3 separate regions of the Homo sapiens genome follow, and all the other regions are linked to region 2. The links come from fine-mapping of genetic effects on gene expression. A gene starts in region 2. Each other region holds a variant in brackets. All regions are shown on one strand. Distances are from middle to middle.

Region 1 (8,180 bases), 61 kb after region 2:
CAGCCTCTAGGCCAGTTCAGCAGCCACAACATCTCTGACTTGGATACCATCTGGCTGGTGGTGGCCCTCAGCAACGGTGGGTGCTGCTGGGGCCAGGCCTCGGTTTTCCCTATGTGAAATGGGCCTGTGGGCCTAAGGGCAGTAGCGGGTGTGTTGCAGGGAGATGCAGGGAGCAGGTGCTGCAGGGGATGGGGCTGGGGAGGGCTGTCAGGCTTGGTAAGGTGAGGGTGGGATCCTGTTGTGTGACCTGTCTGACCATGGTGCCACCCTTAGCCACCCAGAGCTTCACGGCCCCACGGACAAACCAGGACATCCCTGCTCCTGCCAACTTCTCCCAGAGGGGCTACTATCTCACACTGAGGGCCAACCGGGTGCTGTACCAGGCCAGAGGCCAGCTCCATGTCCTCCGTGTTGGCAATGATACCCACTGCCAACCAACAAAAATTGGCTGCAACCATCCCCTACCAGGACCGAGCCCCTACAGGTGAGCGGCTCTGCCAGGCCCTGGCTCCTGCCCGCATGCACCCAAGCCGGAGCCTGGGGCAGCTCCTACGAGGCTCACCAGGGCCCCAGCAGGATGCCTGGGTCCCCTGCTCCTGCTTGGCCAAAGGGAAGAGGAAGCAGCAGGCAGGGGCTGGGGAGGCCTTCATGAATTACATGAATTATCCTTCTTTTTTTTTTTTTTTCCTTTTCTTCTTCTTCGTCGTCTTCTTCTTCTTCTTTTTTTTTTTTTTTTTGAGATGGAGTCTTGCTCTGTGACCCAGGCTGGAGTAGAGTGGTGTGATCTCGGCTCACTGCAACCTGTGCCTCCTGGGTTCAAGCGATTCTCCAGCCTCAGCCTAACGAGTAGCTGGAATTACAGGCATCTGACACCACACCCGACTAATTTTTGTATTTTTAGTAGAGACAGGGTTTCGCCATGTTGGCCAGGTACCTGCCACCATGCCTGGCTAATTTTTGTAATTTTAGTAGAGATGAGGTTTCACCATGTTGGCCAGGCGGGTCTCAACTCCTGGCTTCAAGTGATCTGCCCACCTTGGCCTCCCAAAGTGCTGGGATTACAGACGTGAGCCACCATGCCTGGCCTATCCTGCTTTTCTTGAGCAGAAGGTTCCCCACCTCAAGCCCCAGTCCCCACAGGCCATGTGGACCACTCAGGTGGCGTCTCTCCATCCAGACAGGGTCTCCCCTCACTAAATGCTTGATTCACGCATGTTCAGTTCTGAGAGATCTAATACTCACCCCCTACCTTTCCCAAATGAGGACACAGAAGCCCAGAGAGGGGGAGGGACGTCACACCACTGGAAATGTCACACCTAGATTTGAACCCATTCTGTTGGGCTCTTTCGCCCCAGCCTCCGGCCCCCTCCCCGGGCTGCTCTCGCCAGGGCCTGGGACTCCAGGGGACAGACTTGCAGGCACCAAGTCTGATGGTTTCAGGACTCCGGGGGACCCCCATGGCCAATGCTGGGTCTCCCATTCAGGGTGAAGTTCCTGGTGATGAATGACAAAGGACCCGTGGCTGAAACAAAGTGGTCCAGCAACACTCGCCTGCAGCAAGGTAGGGGCCAGAGGCTCCGGTCAAACAGTAGGGGCAGGGGGCTGGGGCCTGGGGGTCCTGAGGACTGAGGATGGGCTGGGGGAACAGGTCAGCTCACCACTCAGTCAGAGGCAGCCAACCATCTTGCAATCTGCAGGCGCCCCTCCCCCAGCCACCCCCTTCCCCCAGGCCTGGGTGGTGGTAGGGGAGGCAGGGCGGTGATTGGTCTGGATTCTGCCCAAGGGCCCCTTCCGGTCAGGTAAAATTTCTTTTCCTGCCCGCCTATGCGGCCCCCATCACTGCCCTCAGCCCAGGCACTTCGGGCTGTCCCTGGCCCCCAGAGCCCGGGCACCGTGGTCATCATCGCCATCCTGTCTATCCTCCTGGCCGTCGTCCTCACGGTCCTCCTGGCTGTGCTCATATACAGCTGGTGAGTGGACCGGGCTGAGACCGCCCATGCCTCTTGGGAGGGGCGGGGCCCTTGGGCATTAACCCCTCCCTCTCTAGTTCCTCCCCGCCCGCCCCTGCCCACCTTCCAAGCGGGTACTGTGCACCCCCTGGTGGCAGCATCTGGGATTGCAAGTGGTTGCCGCCTGCGGACACCCCAGTCGGGGAGGCGCCCAAGGAGGAGGTGAATTGCTTTCACACCAAGCTCTGAGCATTGCCTCAAGACGCCATACAGGCCGGGTGCAGTGGCTCACGCCTGTAATCCCAGCACTTTGGGAGGCTGAGGCCCGCAGATCACCTGAGGTCAGGAGTTCAAGACCGGCCTGGCCAACATAGTGAAACCCCAGCTCTACTAAAAATACAAAAAATTAGCTGGGTGTGGTGGCACGTGCTTGTAATCCCAGCTACTCAGGAGGCTGAGGAAGGAGAACGGCTTGAACCTGGGAGGTGGAGGTTGCAGTGAGCTGAGATTGCATCACTGCACTCCAACCTGGGTGACAGAGTGAGACTCCATTTAAAAAAAAAAAGGGGGGGGTGTCAGGGTTTCATACAGAGCTCAGGTGCCTGAGCCTGGGGCACAGAGAGTGTCCACAAGGCTTCCTAGAGAAAAGGGGAGACCTAGCCCTGGTGGGATTTGGGGAGGAGGGGGAGAGGGAGTGATAAAAAGGGGGTGGGGAGGTGTGGGGGCAGGAGGGGCAGGAGGAGCAGGAGGGGTGCATGCAGCCAGGCCAGGCAAGGGGCCCCAGGTGCCTAGCTGAGGAACTGGGCTGTATCCTGCAGCCTATGGGAGCCGGGAGTGGGTTTTGATCAGGGGAGACAGGCAGATAATGTTTGAGCGGGGTCCTGAGGTGTGGAGGGTGGAGGGGGAGAGTGATGGGGAGCAGGAGCAATGAGCTGGATTTGTGAGGTTTGAAGGAATCGCCTCAGTCCCTTTGGTTAATTCTGCCCGGCCAGTGGAGTCTCAGTTTCCCCTGTGCGATGGGTCAGAGCATGCTAGCCAATGGCTGTGGGATCTCGGCCAGAGCCTTTCTTCAGCATCCATCATCTCTCCCTCTCTCCTCCCCTCCCAAGCTTCAACAGCTGCAGGAGCACTTCCCTATCAGGCCCAGAGGAGACAGGGAGTGTGAGAAGATACACCACGCACCTCGCGTTCAGCACTCTGGCCGAGGGGGATTCCTGAGGGGTACCAGAGGGGCCCACGTGTCCCTACACCTCCTCCCTGGCCCAGGCTGCAGAGCCTGGGCTGGGACACGCCCTGAAGCTTCTGGACCCTGAGAGAGATTGTTTCTTTTCTTTACTTTTTTTTTTTTTTTTTTTTTTTT[TG/G]AGACGGAGTCTCACTCTGTCGCCAGGCTGGCGCGATCTTGGCTCACTGCAACACGGGTTCAAGCGATTTTCCTGCTTCAGCCTCCTGAGTAGCTGGGACTACAGGCACACGCCGCCATGCCCAGCTCATTTTTGTATTTTTAGTAGAGATGGGGTTTCACCATGTTGGCCAGGATGGCCTCCATCTCTTGACCTTGTGATCTGCCTGACTCGGCCTCCCGAAGTGCTGGGATTACAGGCGTGAGCCATCAAGTCTGGCGAGAGAGATTGTTTCTAGATGAGGGTGGGGGCGGGTGTCCTTAGCCCAAAGCTTGTGCCAGTCTCTATCAGAAATAAATGCCCCCAACACCTCCCTGCCTGCCTCTGACATCATACACCTGGGTAGTCTTTCTGCACCACTGCCCCTGGCTCCTCCTCCTGAGGAGGTCCCCAAGGGCGTGTAGGACCAGGGCAAGGCTCAGGATCCTAGAGAAATTGTCACCTGGGGCAGGACAGGTCTCTCTGCCAGCCTTACTGTCCCTATCTGTAAAATGAGGATGGTAACCCTGAACCCACAAGGCCACAGTAAGGCTAAACCAAGGTGAACATGCCTTGGGAACTGTGAAGACTGTGGACCCAAAGCCGGTTGCGGTGGCTCAGGCCTGTAATCCCAGCACTTTGGGAGGCTGAGGCAGGAGGATCACTTGAGCCCAGGAGTTCGAGACCAGCCTGGGCAACATGGTGAAACCCTATCTCTACAAAAATGACAAAAAATTAGCTGGGCTTGTTGGCAGACTGTGGACCTGAGATAGGTGCTCCTCTTGTCCTGCCCAGACAGCCTCCTGGTAACCAAAGGCCACGGGGCAGCATGGCTGGCACTTGCTATCTTTCCACCCAAGCATCCTCCCTGTGGCCCCTCTCCCCAGCCTGCCCCCTGTTGGCTGGAGGACTTCAAGCCCTCTGCCTCCACTTCCTCCAATCCTTTCCTAGAGTACACGAAAGGCAAAAGGTGCAGTTTCTTTTTTTTTTTTTTTTTTGAAATGGAGTTTCACCTTATAGCCCAGGCTGGAGTGCAGTGGCACCATCATAGCTCACTGCAGTCTCTAATTCCTGGGCTCCAGTGATCCTCCCACCTCAGCCTCCTGAGAGTAGCTGGGACTACAGGCACATGACACCACGTCTGGCTAATTTTTAATTTTTTTGTAGACATGGAATCTTACTCTGTTGCCCAGGCTGGAAAGAACAGTGGTGTGATCATAGCTCATTGCAGCCTCAAACTCCTGGGTGCAAGCGATCCTCCCGCCTCAGCCTCCTGAGTAGCTTGGACTGTAGGTACATGGCACCATGTCTGGCTAATTTTTTAAATTTCTTTAGAGACGGGGTCTCACTATGTTGCCCAGGCTGGTCTCGAACTCCTGGTCTCAAGTGATCCTCCTGCTGGGATTACAGGCGTGAGCCACTGTGCCCAGCTCATGCAACACTTATCATCAGGATTCCCACTCAGTGCTCGGACCCCAGGGGCCAGAGATGCCCGTGGCAAGGTTCTGCCCTCAAGGTGCCCACTGCTTTAGGGGGAGGACAGTGATACTACCACATACGAGAGAAGGAGAGGACACAACTGTCAGGGAGATGGACTGTTTGAGCTTCAGAGGCAGCATCTTGGGGAGGGGTGGCTTTGAAGAAGGAGCAGGACACTTGGGCCAGGTGGACCTTGGAAGGGTGCCAGGCAGGAGGAGCAATGTGTTGCTGATGGGCAGGTAGGGGAGGGTGAGGGATGGAGAGGAGACCGGAAGACACCCTGTGCCATGTGGAGGGGCCCCGCCCTCTGGGGCAAGAGGTCAGGGAGGAGGGCGCTGGCTGGGTTCCCAGGCGCCTGCCCCTGAGAGGCGCAAATGGCCCTAATGGGGTTATTAGGTGGAGCAGATGCATCCGGCTCCTGCTGTGGAGGAAATGCTCAAATGATCTTGAAGCTACCAGGCTGGGAGAGGCAGGCAGGGGATGGGGCAGACAGGCTGCCAACCTCTGTGAGATAAGCCCTGGCCTCTCCAGAACCTTTTCAGAACAGCTTTGAGCCCCAACCCTGGGGCTGAGTGACCCAAGACAGATCACTCACACTCTCTGGGCCTCAGTTTCCCCTTACATAAAAAGCAATGGTTAGGCCAGGTGCAGATGGCTCACACCTCTAATCCTAGTGCTTTGGGAGGCCGAGGTGGGAGGATTGCTTGAGACCAAGAGTTCAAGTCCAGCCTGGGCAACATAGCAACACCCCATCTCTACAAAATATAAATACAAAAATTAAGGCTGGGCATGGTGGTTAAGGCCAGGCGTGGTGGCTCACACTTGGAATCCCAGCATTTTGGGAGGCAGAAGCAGGAGGATCACCTGAGGTCAGGAGTTTGAGACCAACCTGGCCAACATGGTGAAACCCCGTCTCTACACAAAATACAAAAATTAGCCAGCCATGGTGGTGCATGCCTGTAATCCCTGCTACTGTGGAGGTTGAGGCAGGAGAATCACTTGAACCCAGGTGAAGGAGGTTTCAGTGAGCCCAGATCATGCCACTGCACTCCAGCCTGGGTGACAGGGAACAAGACTGTCTCAAAACAAAACAAAAGAAAAATTAGCCAGACATGGTAGTGTGAACCTGCAGTCCCAGCTACTATGGAGGCTGAGGTGGGAGGATCGCTTGAGCCCAGGAGTTGGAGGCTGCAGTGAGCTATGATGGCACCCCTGGACGCCAGCCTCTGTGACAGAGCAAGACCCTGTCTCTAAAATGAAACATTTTTAAAAGGGAAGGTGAACTGGGTGAACTCTAAGACCCTGCATTTCACAAACCCTTGCCCACACCCTGTATGCGTCGGGCCCTGGCAGGAAACAGAGGGTACGCTGTCTCACAGGGCAATTGAGAGCGTTTACAAAGGTGTGGGCAGCATTAGGGGAATGGACCAGAGAGGGTGACCTGGGACTTGGCTGTAATGGGGCCCTAAGCACTCCTGGATCTGATTGCTGATGGGAGGGAGGGAGTGATGTTTCCTGGATCAGCAGGCAGTAGCCATGGGTGAGGGGCCCCGCAGGAGCAGGGGCTGTAGGTGAAAGGATGAAGCCACCAGAGGGAACTGGGCTCTGTCTTCCCGCCCCCTGATCTCATGCCAGTGTCTCCACTGGCCACACCTCACGAGAAGCAAGAGAGTGTGGGGTCTCAGTGGTGCAGTCCCTGGAGGCCAATCTGCTGGGTCAGAGCAGGACAGAGAAAGCGAAATGGACATACAGAGGCACACGCCACTTTCATGCTGATCCAGTGGAATTAGATCCTTCCTGTTCTTTCTTTTCTTTCTTTCTTTTTTTTTTTTTTTTCCTTTTTTAGAGATGGGGTCTCACTCTGTTGCCCAGGGTGGGGTATGGTGGCGTCTTCATAGCTCACTGTAGCACTGAACTCCTGGGCTCAGGCGATCCTCCCACCTTGGCCTCCCAAAGTGCTGGGATTTCAGGCACTACAGGCACCTAGCTAACTTTCTTTCTTTCTTTTTTTTTTTTTTGGGTAGAGGCAGGGTCTCCGTCACCCAGGCTTGAGTGCAGTGGCACGATCATAGCTCACTGCAGCCTTGAACCCCTGGGTTCAAGCAATCCTCCCACCTCAGCCTCCCAAGTAGCTGGGATTATAGGATGTGCCACCACCCAGCTAATTTTTTTATTTTTTGTAGAGATGGGGTCTCGCCATGTTGCCCAGGCTAGTTTGGAACTCCTGAGCTCAAGAGATGCTCCCACCTTGGCCTCCCAAAGTGCTGAAATTACAAGCATAAGCCACCATGCCTGGCCTCCCTTCCTGGCCTTCTGGTCTCCAGACTGGAGAGAGGGCCACAAAGTCCTGCCCAGACAGAGGGCTGCTAAGGCTGGGGTGGGGCTGGGGGTGTGCAGAAGGGACTCTGCAGGGGCTGACCTCTGAGTCTCAGGGGACAGGGCAAATTTTTTTTTTTTTTTTTTTTTGAGATGGAGTCTTGCTCTGTCGCCCAGGCTGGAGTACAATGGCACGATCTCGGCTCACTGCAATCTCCGCCTCCTGGGTTCAAGTGATTCTCATCTCTCAGCCTCCCGAGTAGCTGGGATTACAGGAGTGCACCACCATGCCCAGCTAATTTTTGTATTTTTAGTAGAGATTGGGCGGGGTGGGGGGTGGGGTGCAGGTTTCACCGTGTGGCCCAAGCTGGTCTCAAACTCCTGACCTCAAGTGATCCTTCCGCTTCAGCCTCCCCAGGTGCTGGGATTACAGGCATGAGCCACCGCACCCAGCGGGGACAGGACAATTTTGCCAGCTGGAGAAGGGGTGGCCCCCAAATGTCCCCTTCACCACCCTCCTGCCTCTTCCTTCAGAACACTTTTTCCCTGAAGCCCTCCTGGGTAGCCCCCTACCCACATGCCTCAGCATTGGGATGTGGGGAGTGTGGGGGTCCCCCTTGCTCCTCAGCCCCATTTGGAGTAATGTCCTGTGCAGCTGAGCTCACAACTCCTCCTCCACCTGTCCCTCCACCCGGTGTCACTGGCAATTGCTCACTTCCTGGGCCTGCACCCACTCAGCTCCCCTATCCCTGGGCACCAGCCTCAGCCAGCTCCCATGTGGACTAATGACCCTTGTCCCTCCCCTCAGCTGCCTCTCTTTTTTCTTTTTTTTTGTTTTTGAGACAGAGTCTGGCTCTGTCACCCAGGCTGGAGTGCAGTGGCGCGATCTTGACTCATTGCAACCTCCACCTCCTGGGTTCAAGCGATTCTCGTGCCTCACCCTCCTGAATAGCTGGGATTACAGGCACCCGCCACCATGCCCGGCTGATTTTTGTATTTTGGTAGAGACGGGGTTTCACCATGTTGGCCAGGCTGGTCTCAAACTCCCGACCTCAGG
Region 2 (8,180 bases):
CATGGTGGGACCCTGTCTCTACCAAAAATACAAAAATCAGCCAGGCGTGGTGGCATATGCCCGTAGTCCCAACTACTCGGGAGGCTGAGGTGGGAGGATTGCTTAAGCCTGGGAGGTCGAGGCTACAGTGAGCCATGATGATGCCATTGTACTCCAGCCCAAACAACAGAGTGAAACCCCAACTCTTAAAAACAAAAACAAAAACAAAACTCTGGTAAAGATTCATTCTGGCTTGCTAATAGCATGAACCTTGCAGCAACTGAACATCCCCAGCAGGGCTGCTGGACATGGGCTGGAGGCACTGACCCACTGGACTATAAGTCAAAGGCAAAACCCAGTCCAGTGTGTGTCATCTCCCCAGGCTCTAAAGCACAGGCCTGCTGAGGCAGGCCAGACAGAAGCTCCAGGGATAAACAGTCGGACAGGAACCAAATCAGCTTCAACTTGGCTTCCCCAGGGCTTTGCCAGTGCCACTGGGCAGAGATACTTATGCCTCAGAAAAATGGAAGAAATTAGACCCAGGCCCAGTGGATCTGGTTGGTAGGGAGGAGACAGGCCTCCGGGAAAAGGCACTCCTTACCAGGAGGGGAGACAGAATACAGGAGAGAAACACTGAATGAGAAACACTCAGAGAAAAGGAACTAGAGAAAAGAACACAGAAAAACAAGAGAAAGATTTGGGAGGTGGCACACTGCCAGCATGAGCTGGGGGGAACTCCCTGGAGGAAAGAAGCCCATTCCTCTTGATGGCCACAAAGCCCTGGCTCCCAGAAGATAGCAAGCTGGCACAAGCAGCAGGTAACAGAAGATGGCAGCTCAACCCAGCTCTTGCAAGAAGGGACTCAACCAGCTGCGATGGCTCATGCCGGTAATCCCAGCACTTTGGGAGGCCAAGGCGGGTGGATCACCTGAGGTTAGGAGTTTGAGACCAGCCTGGCCAACATGGGAAACCCCGTCTCTACTAAAAATACAAAATTAGCTGGGTGTGGTGGTGGGTGCCTGTAATCCCAGCTACTTGGGACGCTGAGGCAGGAAAATCACTTGAACCTGGGAGGCAGAGGTTGCAGTGAGCCAAGATCGTGCCACTTCACTCCAGCCTGGGCGACAGAGCAAGACTCTTGTCTCAAAAAAAAAAAAAAAAAAAAAAAGGGACTCAGCAGCTAATATAATAAGAGCCAAGCTCAATGCCTGCCACCTATCCCTCTGACTTGATCCCTCTCTACCCCAGGCCACCTTTAAGAATGTTCCCAGCGCAGAGGCTCATTCCCAGTTCAGAGGCCTTTTGAAAGAAGGGCGAAGGAAGTTTCAAATCAACATGAAAAAACATGGTGCACTGGCCTCTGAACAGCAAGGCATATGGAGTGTCAAGCATCTTATAATTCAATAGTGCCTTTGAAAATAAGTACTGAGAGCCTACTGCTTATTAGTTACAGGAATGCAGCTATGAACAATCCCTAAAAGGTCCTGCCCATGGAACTTACTTTCTAACGGAAGAAAAAACACACACCTAACACTAACGTACTATTAGAGAGTGAAGCAGGTGCTGAAGGTGACACATGAACCAGGTGAGAACAAACCATGCCAAGATACGGAGTAAGCAGGGGCGGGAGACAGATCCAAGATGGAGAGCTGATGTCATGGTTGCTCCCCACTCTATCTGCCCTCCCCAATGCCAGCACTGTGTGTGTGAAACCTCTTATGACCCACCAAACTAGAGACCACCTCTTCTTCCTCTGATATCTCTACCACTTTTTCTGTATGACTTGGTCCATCCTTCATCTAAGCATCTGCCACATGTAACAACCGTGCCTCAAGCACCGAGGACAGAGACAGAGCCCACCCCACCCCTTCTAGTAAGAGATAAAGGTGACAAGAAAATCCATAAGGATTTCCAGCATATTTTGTGTCTGGCATGTGTCTGAAGGAAGTCAAACAGAAAGATGGGAAAAAGTGCCTACAAACAAGGAGCTAGGAATCAAGGAAGGCCTCTCTGAGAAGGCAACCTCGGGGCCAAGAAGTGAAGGCTGGGGAGCCACCTGGGACGATGTGGAAAAAGTGTGCTCCATGCAGAGGAAGCAGCAGAGCAAGGACTCTGAAGAGGAACCAGCTTGTAAGTTTGAGGAAGAGAAAGACGGCCAGAGTGGTGACAAACAGGTGTGGCCACAGTGTGGTAAATGAAAGGGGTGGTAGGTTCTGGGTCATGCAGGGCATCAGCAGGGCAAGGAGTCTAGGCTTTATTCAACATGCAACAGGAAGCCACTGTAGAGTTACAGACACGGAAGTGACATGGTCCAGATATTTTTCCGCAGTGTGCAGGAATCTGCCACATAGTATCTGCTGAGTAACTACCTTAATGGCTGTGACGATGAGGGTGGAGGTCAGTGGGTTATGCTGCTGAGTGACACAACCTGTAGTGCTGCAGGAGCCTGGAGGTAGGGAGGGAGCATAGCATGGCTGTCTGGGCAGATGAGTCCAGTGAGATGGGTGGGTTCTGACTTCATGAGGGGAAAGAGGAGGCTCCACAACCCTCATGAGGGACAGAGAGTAGATGGGGTGGGTAAGCACCGGGCCAGGAGTGGTAGCAGACAGCTCTCGTAAGCAGCCCAAGGAAAGGCTAGGAACATAGGAGGTCTGAAGAGGGAAGCCCAAACTGCCAGGTGGGCTGGGAGGCATCATCCCAAACCAGTGATGGTTCCTGAGAAGACTGATGATGAAGAGAGACCTGGAAGGGAGATAGATGAGGAGTGCCAGGAAGCTCCTAGGTAAGTCTGCCAGGGTAAACAGAGTGATCAAGAGCATGTTAAGAAGCAAAATCTTTAATTTGGCAGGGCTGAAGAGGGGCAAAGATTCTTCTGGGTTCTAAAGCCAAGTGGTATGATGTGGACATGAAAATGGGGCACTCATTGCAGAGATACTTTTGACTGGGTTTGAAGTAACAGGAGAGGTCTAAGAGAAACACGAACAGGAATAGGAGAGAGGCAAAACAGAGGGCTGACATCTAGAAACTCTCCTGAGAAAAATAACACTGACTGACGTGGGTAAATCTGAGGGATTATAAAGCAGGCAGAAAACCCCACCAAGGAAATGACGAGATATCCTTCTTTAGATGCCTCCAAAACAGAAGATGTGCTGTTTGGCATAAGTGCCATCCAGGGCACTCAGACCTGACAGGAGAGTCTACAGAGACCCCATAGAACCAAGCAACTGGTGTTCTAAAGCTCTTCCCCTAATGGCCCAGGGCTGAGGAAAAAGCAAAGCCATAACATCCTCAGGGTCACAATAGTACACTGCATAAAAGCCGCTCTGTGCTGGGCACTACGGAGAGCAGAGGAGATGAGAAAGCACTTACACAAGTGGAGATGGCCCCCACACAAGGGGAAGACAGTTGGGAGGGCCTCAGTGCTGACCACAGTGTGGCCCCACCACGACTCAGACTCCAAGGCCCAGTTTCTATTCCCCAAAGTTGGTCACCTTAGCCCACCATACTCAGCATATTTCTCAGAACTGGGATTTCTCAAAACTGGTCAGTAAAAACAATTTAAGCAAAGAGGAAAGTGAGGATATCTTGGGTGGTAGAGGGAAAATGGGACCTTTTCCCAAATAGATAGCGAGCATCCTACTTTCGTACATCTTCCCATGGCTCAGGCACAAGAAAGAGTACACTTTTTGGAGAAACGAAAGTTCTGAAGTCCACGTTCACAGACAGCCAAGAACCCAGATCCCTGAGCTCCTCGTCTGAAGCCCCCAGGGCAGGGCTCACATTCACAGCCCGGCTGCCAGGCCGCTCTCAAATGCCCATCCCCGAACACAGCGTTTGCAAAAAAACCGGGCGTGGCTTCCGCCTTCTCAGAGAGGGCTGTGCAGGAACCCCTTCTCCAGGGAAGTCCCAGGACTGGAAAGAAGAACCTGGCGAAGCTAGCAAGCACGACCAGGCCGAGGATCCAACATGGAAGCCCGCGAAGCCCACAGTGGGTGGCGAGCGACAGGGGGAGGGGCGGGGACTCACTGGGTCCCCCCAAGCCGGGTTTAACCTGTCCACGATCGGCGGGGCAAGGGGTCACGAGGGTGAGACAGCACTCCTGCTGCGGTGTGGAGGGGCAGACAGGTAAGCCCCAGGCCACCTGCCTGGGCACCGCTCCGCGCTCGCGCTCCCGCTCCCCCCGAGTCCCCCGCTCGCCCCAGACAGACCCACCCCTGAGGCAGCCCCTGGCCCGACCCTGGCCCGTCTCGCCGCCCACCAGTCGGTCGGGGACTTCTCGGTGACCACCCGCACGTAGGCCTCTTGCAGCGCTGGCCCGTTCCGGCTCAGGTTCGCCGCCATGGCCCGCCCCGCAGTCTCCGCGCCGCTGCTGTAGCTTCCGGGCCGGGCCGGGCCGCCCCTTTGACAGCCGACAAGCCTCGCCTCCGACAACCGGAAACCCCGCCCCACGGCAGGAAGCGGAAATGGTAGGGGCCAGCCGCACCCGCGGGTCCTAGCGAGCTGTCCGGCCAGCTGGTCTAGCATGCAGGTCCCGCGAATGCCGAAGGACAAGCGGGAGAAGGGAGGACCCGGCCTTCTGTTTGTCCTCAGGGAGGGATCCTGGGGCGCAGACTAGCCCGTCTTCTGGTCCCACCCAAACGGCAGCTCGACTTGGAAGCCTGGCCGCAGGGACCCAGTCCAGCCCCCGCTAGCTGCTCTCACAGCACCGTGCTTATTCTTTTCTAAATCTTGTTATGTCGATGCGCTTATTTGAACGATCTTGGGTTCACTGCAGTCTCCCTCCAGACGAGGTCTTCAGCCTGTTTGTGGACCCTCAACAGTTTGATCTGTGAAAGAAACATGCATAAATGTATGAATACACGAATAAATGAGTGCTAAGTGACGATCACACCGCTACAAACCTAACTGAAAGTGACTGTGCTTTCTCACTCTCACCTGAGTTTTTCCCTCTGCAGTTTGGTCGAGGCCAGGATAGTGGAGGCATGAAGAGAACCTGTCTTGTGCTTCACCTGCACATCTGGCTGGTCGCCCCTAGAAGGTGTCAGTAATTCCTCAATCTGCTCCCCTCCTCCTGGGAGCACCAGTTTTTCCATCCACAAATCTGCATACACTTGACTGAACTAGCTTCTTATCTGTATGATAGAGAAACATGCCAAAGCGCAAGGCAGCTCACGGCTTATTTCCTCCCATGGAGAATAACTCCCCTGCCTCCTTAAAATATAAATCCTGCCGGGCACGGTGGCTCACGCCTGTAATCCCAGCACTTTGGGAGGCCGAGGTGGACGAATCAAGGGGTCACGAGATCGACACCATCCTGGCTAATACGATGAAACCCCGTCTCTACTAAAACAAAAAATTAGCCAGGCGTGGCGGCGTGCGCCTGTAGTCCCAGCTACTCGGGAGGCTGAGGCAGGAGAATGGCGTGAACCAGGGAGGCAGAGCTTGCACTGAGCCGACATAGCGCCACTGCACTCCAGCCTGGGCTACAGGGCGGGACTCTGTCTCAAAAAAAGTATAGTATATATATACATATATACACACACATAGTATATATATGTGTATATATATACACACACACATAGTGTATATGTATATATACTATGTGTGTATATATGTATACATATATGTATATATATGCATATGTATAGGTATACATATATGTATATATGCATAGGTATAGGTATACATATATGTATATATATGCATAGATATAGGTATACATATATGTATATATATGCATAGGTATAGGTATACATATATGTATATATATGCATAGGTATAGGTATACATATATATGTATATATATGCATAGGTATAGGTATACATATATGTATATATATGCATAGGTATAGGTATACATATATGTATATATATGCATAGGTATAGGTATACATATATGTATATATATGCATAGGTATAGGTATACATATATGTATATATGCATATGTATATATGCATATGTATATATGTGCATATGTATATGTATATGTGCATATGTATATATGCATATGTATATGTATATATGCATATGTATATATATGCATATGTATATGTATACATATATTATATATGCATATGTATATGTATATATGCACATGTATATATATACACATATGTATATATATGCATATGTGTATATATATACATATAGTATATATATGTATATATCCACAATCCCTTAAGTCCAGATGTGCTTTGGAATTCAATCTAAGATTTCAGAAAAGTTATACCATGTATGTCCTGGGTAAGCCCTTATCACAGGATCTGGACAGGAACTGGTAATCAGACATGTTCATGCTTTTGCTGTGATATGTGTGAATAATCAGCTAAGTGTGTGATATGTGTGAATAATCAGCTAAGTGGAATATAAGACGACTCTAAATATCCTCATGACAATTAAGGTCAGTTTTTGCTACCAAATGAACTACCAAAATCTTAAGGTGTTTGAGTCTGGATGGTGCAGATAAGGGCTTGTGAACCTAATTTGGACAAAAACATGGTTCATTTGTTATGCCCATTTTTCTTTCTGTTCACATGATTGTTGCTTGTTGTCTTGTTTGTTTTGTGCTGCTATAACAAAGTACCACAGACTATGTAATTTACATAGAACAGAAATTTATTTTCTCACAGTTCTGGAGGCTGGGAAGTCCAAGGTCATGGCACTAGTATCTGATGAGGGGCTTCTTGCTGCATCATAACATGGTGAAAGGCAAAGAGGATGAGAGAAAGACAAAAAGGGGCCAGACTCATTCTTTTTTTTTTTTTTTTTTTTGAGATGGAATCTCACTCTGTAGCCAGGCTGGAGTGCAGTGACCACGAACTCGGCTCACTGAAACCTCTGCCTCCCAAGTTCAAGTAATTCTCCTGCCTCAGCCTCCTGAGTAGCTGGGACTACAGGCACGTGCCACCATGCCCAGATAATTTTTGTATTTTTAGTAGAGATAGGGTTTCACCATGTTGGCCAGGATGGTCTCGATCTCTTGACCTCGTGATCTGCCCACCTTGGCCTCCCAAAGTACTGGGATTACAGGTGTGAGCCACCCTGCCCGGCCCCAAACTCAGTCTTTTCTAATGAACCTGAGGCAGGAGAATAGGGGCTGGAAGCAGGCAACAGAACGCCAATGCACACTAACCTCCTAGAACCAAATCAAAAGGAAAACGCCTACTTATGACCAAGTAACAAAAGACCAACACCCTGTTCCGGAGCAACTCTCTGGCCTCAAAGTCCATGGAGTCTTTTCTGAAGGTGAGGTTGCATGCTATATTGTCCTCATCTTGCAAATGACAACACTGAGCTTCAGAGAGAGCGACAGAGGGGGCTGGGACTTCGACTCCAGTGTTCTATCTCCATATTGAGAGCCCTTTAAGGTTAAGAATGTGGCTGGGCATAGTGGCTCATGCCTGTAATTCCAGCACTTTGGGAGGCTGAGGCGGGCGGATCACTTAAGGTCAGGAGTTCGAGACCAGCCTGGCCAACATGGCGAAACCCCATCTCTACTAAAAATACAAAAATTAGCCTGGCATGGTGGTGGGCACCTGTGATCCCAGCTACTGGGGAGGCTGAGGCAGGAGACTCACTTGAACCAGAAGCCAGAGATTGTAGTGAGCTCACGCCACTGCACTCTAGCCTGGGCCCCGTGCTAGACTCCGTGCCCCGCACCCCCCCCCCCCAAAAGAATGTGTGTGTGATTAAAATTTAAGTTAGAGACAGTCTCACTATGTTGCCCAGGCTGGTCTCAAACTCCTGGCCTCAAGTGATCCTCCTGCCTCGGCCTCCCAAAGTGCTAGGATTACAAGGGCTAAGAATTCTAGTCATTCATTCACTCACTCATTCATTCATTCATGAATAAACAGTTTGCCCTGCTTGTGTACCTGTCCCCCTCCTGGGCGGATACGGCAGGCAAACGGTGCAAGGGCGGCTGCCGGGAGAAGGTGGGCAGCTGGAGTGGGACTGGGGGAGACAGGATCAATGTGACCTGCGGTGGTCCCCAGGTGGCCGGGATGCAGTACCTGCACGGCGTCCTGGGCCCCATCATCAACAAGGTGTTTGAGGAGAAGTACGTGGAGCTGGACCCCAGCAAAGTGGAAGTTAAGGATGTAGGGTGAGGCCGGGGGTAACTCCGGGGGGGTGCGGGGCGCAGCGGCAGCGGGTTGGGATCAGGCCCTGTCAGCATGTGTGTTTGTGCTTCTGCCCACCCGTG
Region 3 (8,163 bases), 29 kb before region 2:
CCACCGTGGTGAGTGTGGGAGTGAGGGGCCTGAAGATGATGAAATCCCCTTGAAGTGGTGTGAGGTTAGTGAGTACTTTCACTGTCAGCCTCAGCCCCAGCCCTGAAGGCATCTAGGCTGGCAGAAAATTACATTAGTAATGAGAAGTTTATTAACAATATAATTGGGTTAATCTCATCATTTTTAGTCAGGATTCTTTGGGTTGCAAGTGACAGTGACCCACCCCACACCGTTGGTTCACAAAATAAAGGAAAGGAGGGCCAGCAGAGCCCAGGATGGGGAGGGCTGTGGCCGGTCTGCAGGACAACTGGGCTCAGCGACCTGGGTATCACCAGGCCACTCCTCCTCCCCTCTGCCCCTCTGCACGGTGGCTTCGCCCTCTCTTGCGACGCACCAGCTTCTTCCATCGGTTGGAAATGTGGCCACAAAAGGTGCTCGGCTGCCACAGGCTACAGCTTCTGCCACTGTGTGGGCCTGCCCTCAGTCTCAGATCCAGAATTCCTAGGGAGGGACTCTAGTGGCTGACCTGAAGCAGGTGACTTGCTTGGGCTGGGGCCCACCCTCTGTGGGAAGATATGTGAGCACCCCAGCCAGCCCTGCCAACTCTGCTCCTAAATCCACCCTTTTGATTGTTAACTCCTCATTGTTTTTTGCTGTTGGCTAAGGAGGAGAACCACAGAAATTTGTTCCACCTTCTGTTAGGTGGGAGAGGCATGGTTTTTCCAGTGACTTAGGAGCCCCTCGTGCTGATGTGTTAGGGTGACTGTTTTGATTATGTTGGAATCACAGGCTAGAGCTGTGTAAGTCCCTTTCATAGAGGAGAGGAGAGGGGTGTGCGTGGGTTTGTTCCCAGAGACGGCAGGCTGGGTAGTCAGGCTCCAGGTTTGAATCCTTGCCCTGTGGTCTACGGCAGGTTGCGAGTGGGGACGGCGCCTGCCTGGTGCATGGTGCTCCATGGGCCACACCGTCCCGGAGCGGGTGATCATCCGAGTCTAGCCATGAGAGCTCTGCCCAACCGGGCTACGCTCCTTCCCCACAGCTCTTCACCCAGATCTTCGGGGTCGGTGTGAAGACTGCTGACCGGTGGTACCGGGAAGGACTGCGAACCTTAGATGACCTCCGAGAGCAGCCCCAGAAACTAACCCAACAGCAGAAAGCGGGTGAGCCCTCCAGAGAGGCTGGGCCCTGGGCTTCCCTAAACTGCACCCTGGATCCCTCAGCATCAACTCCCTAGAGGGAAGGGAGCAGTCTGGTGCAGAGGGTTTGGTGGCAGCTTTGTGTGGTGGGCTTCCTGGGGTCTCCACCCAGTGCAGTCAGGATCTATCAAAGCCTTTTCTCAGTGGACGATGCTGACCACAGCAACTTCCATGATATGCCAGGGGCTTGTGTCTGCCTACTGGTTAGACTTTGACCAGTGACCAGGGACAGCCTGGGCCTTGGGCACACTGCCCAGTGTGGTGCTTGGTACATGGAGGCCTGCAGAGGTGGCACTGAGCAGCAGAAAGAACATCAGCTTTCAAGTTTGTTAGGCCTGGGTTTGAGTCTTATCTACCATTTGCCAGGTAGGTGACCATTGCCCAAGAAATAACCTCTCTGAGTCTGTTACATTTTCTGTAAAATGGAGAAGGAAGGCTGGGCATGGTGACTCACACCTGTAATCCCAGCACTTTGGGAGGTCAAGGTGGGTAGATCGCTTGAGCTCAGCAGTTCAAGACCAGTCTGGGCAACAGGGTGAAACCCTGTCTCTACGAGAAATACAAGAGTTAGCCAGGCGTGATGGTGGATGCCCGTAGTACCAGCTACTCATGAGGCCGAGGTACAAGGATCGCTCGAGCCCGGGAGGTCAAGCCTTGAGGCCAAGGTGGAAGTTGCAATGAGCTGAGATTGAGCCACTGCACTCCAGCCTGAGTGACAGAGCAAGACCCTATCTCAAAAAAAAAAAAAAAAAAAGGTGGGAAGGAATGAATTCGTAGGCTCCCCTGTGAGAGCCGGCAAGTGGCAGGTGTTGAGCAGATACTCTGTTCTCTCTGCATGGCCTGCCTGGCTACTCTGGCCACACCATCTGGGACCTCCCTTGGGTTGAGGGCTCTGCTGAAGCAATCCCCACAGCCCAGCAGGCACTGCCAGCTCCACTGCCTCTTCGCACATCTTCCCCCGGGCCACTGCCCAGTTCAGCTGACAGGAGGTGAGACCCGCAGAGCTGGTTCCTCTTGATCGCCTCTCCCCATGGCAAGAGTAGTCAGGAATGGTTAGCAGCGTTTACTGAGAGCTCACTGTGCCAGGTGCTGCTGTTCCTCACATTTAAACCTCTCCTTAGCTGGGTGCCATGACTCACATCTTTATGTAGTCCCAGCACTTTGAGAGGCCGAGGCGGGTGGATCACCTGAGGTTAGGAGTTCAAGACCAGCCTGGCCAACGTGGCGAAACCCTGTCTCTACTAAAAATAAAAAATTAGCTGGGTGTGGTGGCAGACACCCGTAATCTCAGCTACTCGGGAGGCTGAGGCAGGAGAATCACTTGAACCTGGGAGGTGGAGGTTGCAGTAAGCTCAGATTGCGCCACTGCCCTCCAACCTGGGCAACAAGAGCGAGACTCCATCTCAAATAAATAAATAAACCTCTCCTTAACTGCGTGTGGGAGGCTGATAGGTGAGGAAACAGAAGTAGGCCAGAGTGAGGTGTTCGTCATGGCAAAGCCATCTTCCATCCTTTTACCACCTCTTGGTCCCACTTTATGCATAAGGAAAAACAGCCATCAAAAGAGATAGCCTGTGGCATGACTGTATCAACATCAGTATCCTTATATTTGGTTGCAAAATTATAGTTTTGTAAGGGGTTAACCTTTTGGGGGAGCTGGGTAAAAGGCACATGGGATCTCCCTCTGTGCTATTTCTTTTAACTGCGAGTGAATCTACAACTGTCTCAAAATAAAAGTTTAAAATTTAAAGGGGGAGAGAAGATAGTGTCAGGCTTAGATTGGGATCTCACTCTGCTCCCTGCCCTAGCCTCACCTTCCTCGGAGGCCTCTCCTGGTCCTGCAATGACGGGGCCCCAGGTTGATCACCTCATGCTGGTGAGGGATGGGGGCTCGGTGTGGTGGGCAGGCTGGGTGAGTCAGGAGGGCCGGTGTTGCCCCCAGGGCTCCAGCACCACCAGGACCTGAGCACCCCAGTCCTGCGGTCCGATGTAGATGCCCTGCAGCAGGTGGTGGAGGAAGCTGTGGGGCAGGCCCTGCCTGGGGCCACCGTCACGCTGACCGGCGGCTTCCGCAGGTAAGAAGGCCCGACGTGCCCCTCTGGCTTGGCTTCAGACCCCTCCCCAGTGAAGGGACCTGAGTCGGGGACCCTGAAGCGGGCCCACTCGTTGGAAGGGATGTGGCCTGGGGCTGGAGTGAGCAGGCCGTGTCCCTGAGTCAGAGTCAGACTGACGCCCTCAGGGGGAAGTTGCAGGGCCATGACGTGGACTTCCTCATCACCCACCCCAAGGAGGGTCAGGAGGCGGGGCTGCTGCCTAGAGTGATGTGCCGCCTGCAGGACCAGGTGAGGGCCTCCCTGCTCCCCAAGAGCCACCGCTGGCCAATGCCACTGCCTCCTGCTCTCTCCACACCACCGGATGGTCTCAGCCACGCCCGCCTCTCCCCACAGGGCCTCATCCTGTACCACCAGCACCAGCACAGCTGCTGTGAGTCCCCTACCCGCCTGGCCCAACAGAGCCACATGGACGCTTTTGAGAGAAGTTTCTGCATTTTCCGCCTACCACAACCTCCAGGGGCTGCTGTGGGGGGATCCACGAGGCCCTGCCCATCCTGGAAGGCCGTGAGAGTGGACTTGGTAGTTGCACCCGTCAGCCAGTTCCCTTTCGCCCTGCTCGGTTGGACTGGCTCCAAGGTAGGCAGTGTGCCGCTGGGCCGCCTGGGGGTGGGGCTGGGCCAGCCCTGCTGAGGACAATCCCTTCCCTACAGCTTTTCCAGCGGGAGCTGCGCCGCTTCAGCCGGAAGGAGAAGGGCCTGTGGCTGAACAGCCATGGGCTGTTTGACCCGGAGCAGGTACATTGTTGGGGACTGGGGACAGCAAACAGCACCCATAGTCCGCTCCCTGACCCACAATCTGAAATGGCCCCAGACCCCTCCAGCCTGAAACCCATAGGACCCGAATCTGGGTCTCCACACACAGTTCCTGGCCCTCAAGAGCACACCCCACCTCGGCGCTGGGCTCTTCCCCACCCTCAGTCTTCCTGCAGGGAAGCAGCAGTGGCAAGACTCCTAGGTCACGGAAGTCCTGCTTCTGTTGCAGAAGACATTTTTCCAAGCGGCTTCAGAGGAAGACATCTTCAGACACCTGGGCCTTGAGTACCTTCCTCCAGAGCAGAGAAACGCCTGAGCCTGCCTGTGTCCCCCACTTCCACTCAGGAAATTGGGCTGCCCCCAACCTGGCCACTGAATGTCTCCAGGCAGATATGCTGCCCCCTGACCCCCACCTTCACCCCTCCCCGCCAAGGCCTGGCTCTTCCGGAGGTCAATTGTGCCTGCAGGATCAGTTGAGCCCCTGCTGGTGTGCTGCAGGGTGTGATGAGGT[G/A]GGAGCCCTCAGTGCCAGCCTCATCACTGTGTGACCCTGGGTCTGCTCTTAGCCTCCCCATGGCTCACGTTCCTGCCCTGGATGGGATGTGAGTGGGGCCCACATCGTGGAGCTGTGGTGGGGCCTGCAGTCATGAATGGCAAGTGGTCCCTGATGTGCAGTGTCTCATTAGTTGCACTGCAGTTAACTGTGGCTCCTGCAGGGCACCCTGCCCAGAATGCCCAGAAGAGAACCATGCATACCTGCACTGCATTTGAGAGCCATGAGCTGGAGGCTGTGGTTCGTGCCAGCAAGGAGCCTACTGTCTGGTGTGCTGTAGGCATCTGGAGAGGGAGAGGGCCTGGGTAGGAGCTGGGAGGAAGATAATTTTCAACTATGGGGCTTCAGTACTGCAGCGCCCCGAGCCAGGCTCTGTGCTTCTGCCTTTAAGGCCTGTTCTCAGCACAATGTCTCAAAAATAGGTCATATCCTGCCACTCCCGTCGCAGAGCCCTTTAATGGTTCCAAACCCTAAGTCCACACATAGCCCCTGGCTCTGGCATCTCTCCAGCCCCACTGGCCCCGAGCTGCTTGACTCACCGGCTTCCTATTTGATGCACCCAGGCCCCCTTGTGGCCAACTCCCTCCCCTTCTCACTGAGGCAGAAGCACTGAGGTGGGCTGGACATGGGTGCCCTCCACGTCCCTCATATCCCCAGGCACACTCTGGCCTCAGGTTTTGCCCTGGCCATGTCATCTACCTGGAGTGGGCCCTCCCCTTCTTCAGGCCTTGAATCAAAAGCCACTTTGTTAGGCGAGGATTTCCCAGACCACTCATCACATTAAAAAATATTTTGAAAACATGCAGTAAAGTTGACTCTTGGGGTGCAGTTTTTGCACACGTAGGGCACACCAGGTCCATCCCCAGAACACTTCCCATGCTGTCCTATTGTGGTCATGTGCTTCTCCACCCCCACCCACTTAGCGGTGCTACATCCCTATAGTTTTGCTTTCTCTAGAATGTCATGTAAATAGAACCAAACTATATTTAACCTTTGGACTGGCCTCTCCCCACAGCCTAATGCCTTTGACGTTCCTGCAGGTTGCTGGGTATGTTGAGTTTGTAATTTGTTCCATGCCATGGGTGTTCTACAGTTTATCCATTCAGGTGTTGAATGTCTGGGTTGTGGCCGGATGCCGTGGCTCATGCCTGTAATCCTAGCACTTTGGGAGGCTGAGACGGGTGGATCACTTGAGGCCAGGAGTTTGAGACCAGCCTGGCCACCATGGCGAAACCCCATCTCTACAAAAAATACAAAAATTTGCTGGGCATGTTGGCTCATACCTGTATTCCCAGCTACACGGGAGGCTGAGGCATAAGAATTGCTTGAACCTGGGATGCCAAGGTTGCAGTGAGCTGAGATTGTGCCACTGCACTCCAGCCTGGGCGACAGAGCAAGAGTCTGCCTAAAAAGAAAAAAAGTCTGGGTTGTTTCCAGGGTTTGGAGATGATGAATCGTACTGCTACAGACATGCATGTACAGGTTTTCGTGTAACACATGGGTCTTCATTTCTCTTGGGTAAATAGGCACAGGATTACTGGGTCATTTGGTAAGTATATGTTTATTTCATAAGAGCCAAGTTGTTGTCCCGAGTGCGTCTGTCATTTTGCAGTCCACCAGCGTTGTGAGCACCCCTGTAAGTTAAACACCACAGTAGGCAGTTGCTCTGTATCCCTGTCAGCACTTGATAGTTGCAGTATTTGTTAACTTTAGCTTTTCTAGTAGTAGGTACATAACAGTAGCTCACTGTGGTTTTATTTTCATTTCCCTAATGCCTGATAACGTTGAACATCTGTTCACTGGCTTCTATGTCCTCACTGGTGAAGTGGCTGTTCAAGTCTCATTTTTAAAAATGGAATTGTTGGCCAGGCATGGTGACTCACACCTGTAATCCCAGCACTTTGGGATGCCAAGGTGGGTGGATCACCTGAGGTCAGGAGTTCGAGACCAGCCTGGCCAACATGGCAAAACCCAAAGTGCTAGGATTACAGGCATGAGCCACCATGCCCATCTGTTACTGTTCAATCTTGAGAGTTCTTTATGTGCCACTATGGTGACTGGTAAATATTTTTTCCCAGTGTGTAGACTATCTTTCTTCTTTTAGCACTGTTTTTTTCATAGTAAATGTATTTAATTTTTGTGAAGTCCAGTTTATCAATTTATTCAGTTTACCAGTTTTTTTCTTATGTTTTTGGAGTCCTATCTCTGACCCCAAATCACAAAGATTTTCTTTGCTTTCTTTTATAGTTTGTTTCTTTGTTTTCCCCAGAAACAGGGTCTTGCTCTGTCACCCAGGCTGGAGTGCAGTAGTATGATCATAGCTCACTGCAGTCTCAAACTCCTGTGCTCAAGCAATCCTCCTGCCTCAGCCTCCCAAGTAGCTAGGACTACAGGCACAAGCCACCAAGCCCAGCTAATTTTTTTTTTTTGAGACGGAGTCTCGCTCTGTCGCCCAGGCTGGAGTGCAGTGGTGCGATCTCGGCTCACTGCAAGCTCTGCCTCCCGGGTTCACACCATTCTCCTGCCTCAGCCTCCCGAGTAGCTGGGACTGCAGGCACCCACCACCACGCCCGGCTAATTTTTTATATTTTTAGTAGAGACGGGGTTTCACCGTGTTAGCCAGGATGGTCTGGATCTCCTGACCTCGTGATCTGCCCACCTCGGCCTTCCAAAGTGCTGGGATTACAGGTGTGAGCCACAGTGCCCGGCCTTGAGTTAATTTTTATATAAGTGTAAAGTGGGGATTCATTGTTTTGCACGTGGAAATCCAGTTGTCCCAGCACCATTTGTTAAAGATACTATTCTTTACTCATTGAATTATTTTGGCACCCTTGTCAAAAATCAATTAACCATTGTGTGAAGGATTTTTCCCTGGACTCTCAATTTTTGCATATGTACTCATAAGAGGTTGGTCTGTAGTTTCCTTAGGTTGTTTGTCTGGGTTTGGTATCAGGGTAATACTGCCCTCAGAGAATGAGTTGTTACCTTTTACTTCAACCTACTTGTATCCTGTTATATTTAATGTGAGTTACTTAAAGACAGCATATAATTAGGTTTTTATAATCCAAACTGATAATATGTCGAATTGGCGTGATGAGGCCATTTATGTTTAATGCAACTATTGAAATGTTTGGCTTTAGATCTACCATTATGTTGTTTTCTGTTTGTTCCCTGTTTTCCATTGCTGTTTCTTCTTTCCTTTTTTCCTTCCCTCCTATCTCTCCTTCTCCCTATACACACACACACACACCCCCAACACACACACATAGTGGTTGTTCTAGGGGTTCTAATACACATAGTTTTTTTGTGTTTTTTTTTTTTTTTTTTTTGGAGATGGAGTTTCGCTCTTGTCGCTCAGGTTGGAGTGCAATGGCACAATCTGGCTCACTGCAACCTCCGCCTCCCGATTTCAAACAATTCTCCTGCCTCAGCCTCCCGAGTAGCTGGGATTACAGGCATGCACCACCACACCTGGCTAATTTTGTATTTTTAATAGAGACAGGGTTTTGCCATGTTGGTCAGGCTAGTCCCGAACTCCTGACTTTAGGTGA

Alleles and levels. Positions count from the first base shown, and alleles are read on the strand shown. Sizes are in standard deviations (SD) of each study's normalised expression. Not every link is listed here.
With allele TG in place of G in region 1, the expression in monocytes of the gene that starts at base 4,356 in region 2 is lower (moderate effect, 0.64 SD a copy in BLUEPRINT).

The links. PIP is the estimated chance that this variant, and not a neighbour inherited with it, causes the effect.
Region 1: its variant is fine-mapped to the expression of DBNL in monocytes (BLUEPRINT, PIP 0.94).
Region 3: its variant is fine-mapped to the expression of DBNL in whole blood (TOPMed, PIP 0.93).

Annotation. Positions count from the first base shown.
Region 1 is chr7:43,979,982-43,988,161 of GRCh38, reverse strand. It overlaps the pseudogene POLR2J4. Among named protein-coding and RNA genes, the nearest start is that of SPDYE1, 14 kb to the left of the region's middle. RefSeq lists a silencer at 2,150-2,199. The variant TG/G (reference allele first, on the strand shown) is at 3,310.
Region 2 is chr7:44,040,878-44,049,057 of GRCh38, reverse strand. DBNL (drebrin like) reads right to left here and starts at 4,356. Exons shown (of 13, transcript NM_001014436.3): 1 at 4,238-4,356. The coding sequence starts at 4,320. It overlaps LINC00957 (long intergenic non-protein coding RNA 957), which reads right to left. Exons shown (of 3, transcript NR_072982.1): 3 at 4,762-4,805. RefSeq lists an enhancer at 3,658-4,158 and a silencer at 4,097-4,316.
Region 3 is chr7:44,069,506-44,077,668 of GRCh38, reverse strand. It overlaps POLM (DNA polymerase mu), which reads left to right. Exons shown (of 11, transcript NM_013284.4): 6 at 1,040-1,160; 7 at 3,139-3,271; 8 at 3,436-3,538; 9 at 3,644-3,886; 10 at 3,961-4,044; 11 at 4,292-5,607. The coding sequence ends at 4,378. MIR6838 (microRNA 6838) reads left to right here and starts at 4,236; the gene lies at 4,236-4,291. RefSeq lists enhancers at 3,231-3,300, 3,371-3,570. The variant G/A (reference allele first, on the strand shown) is at 4,574.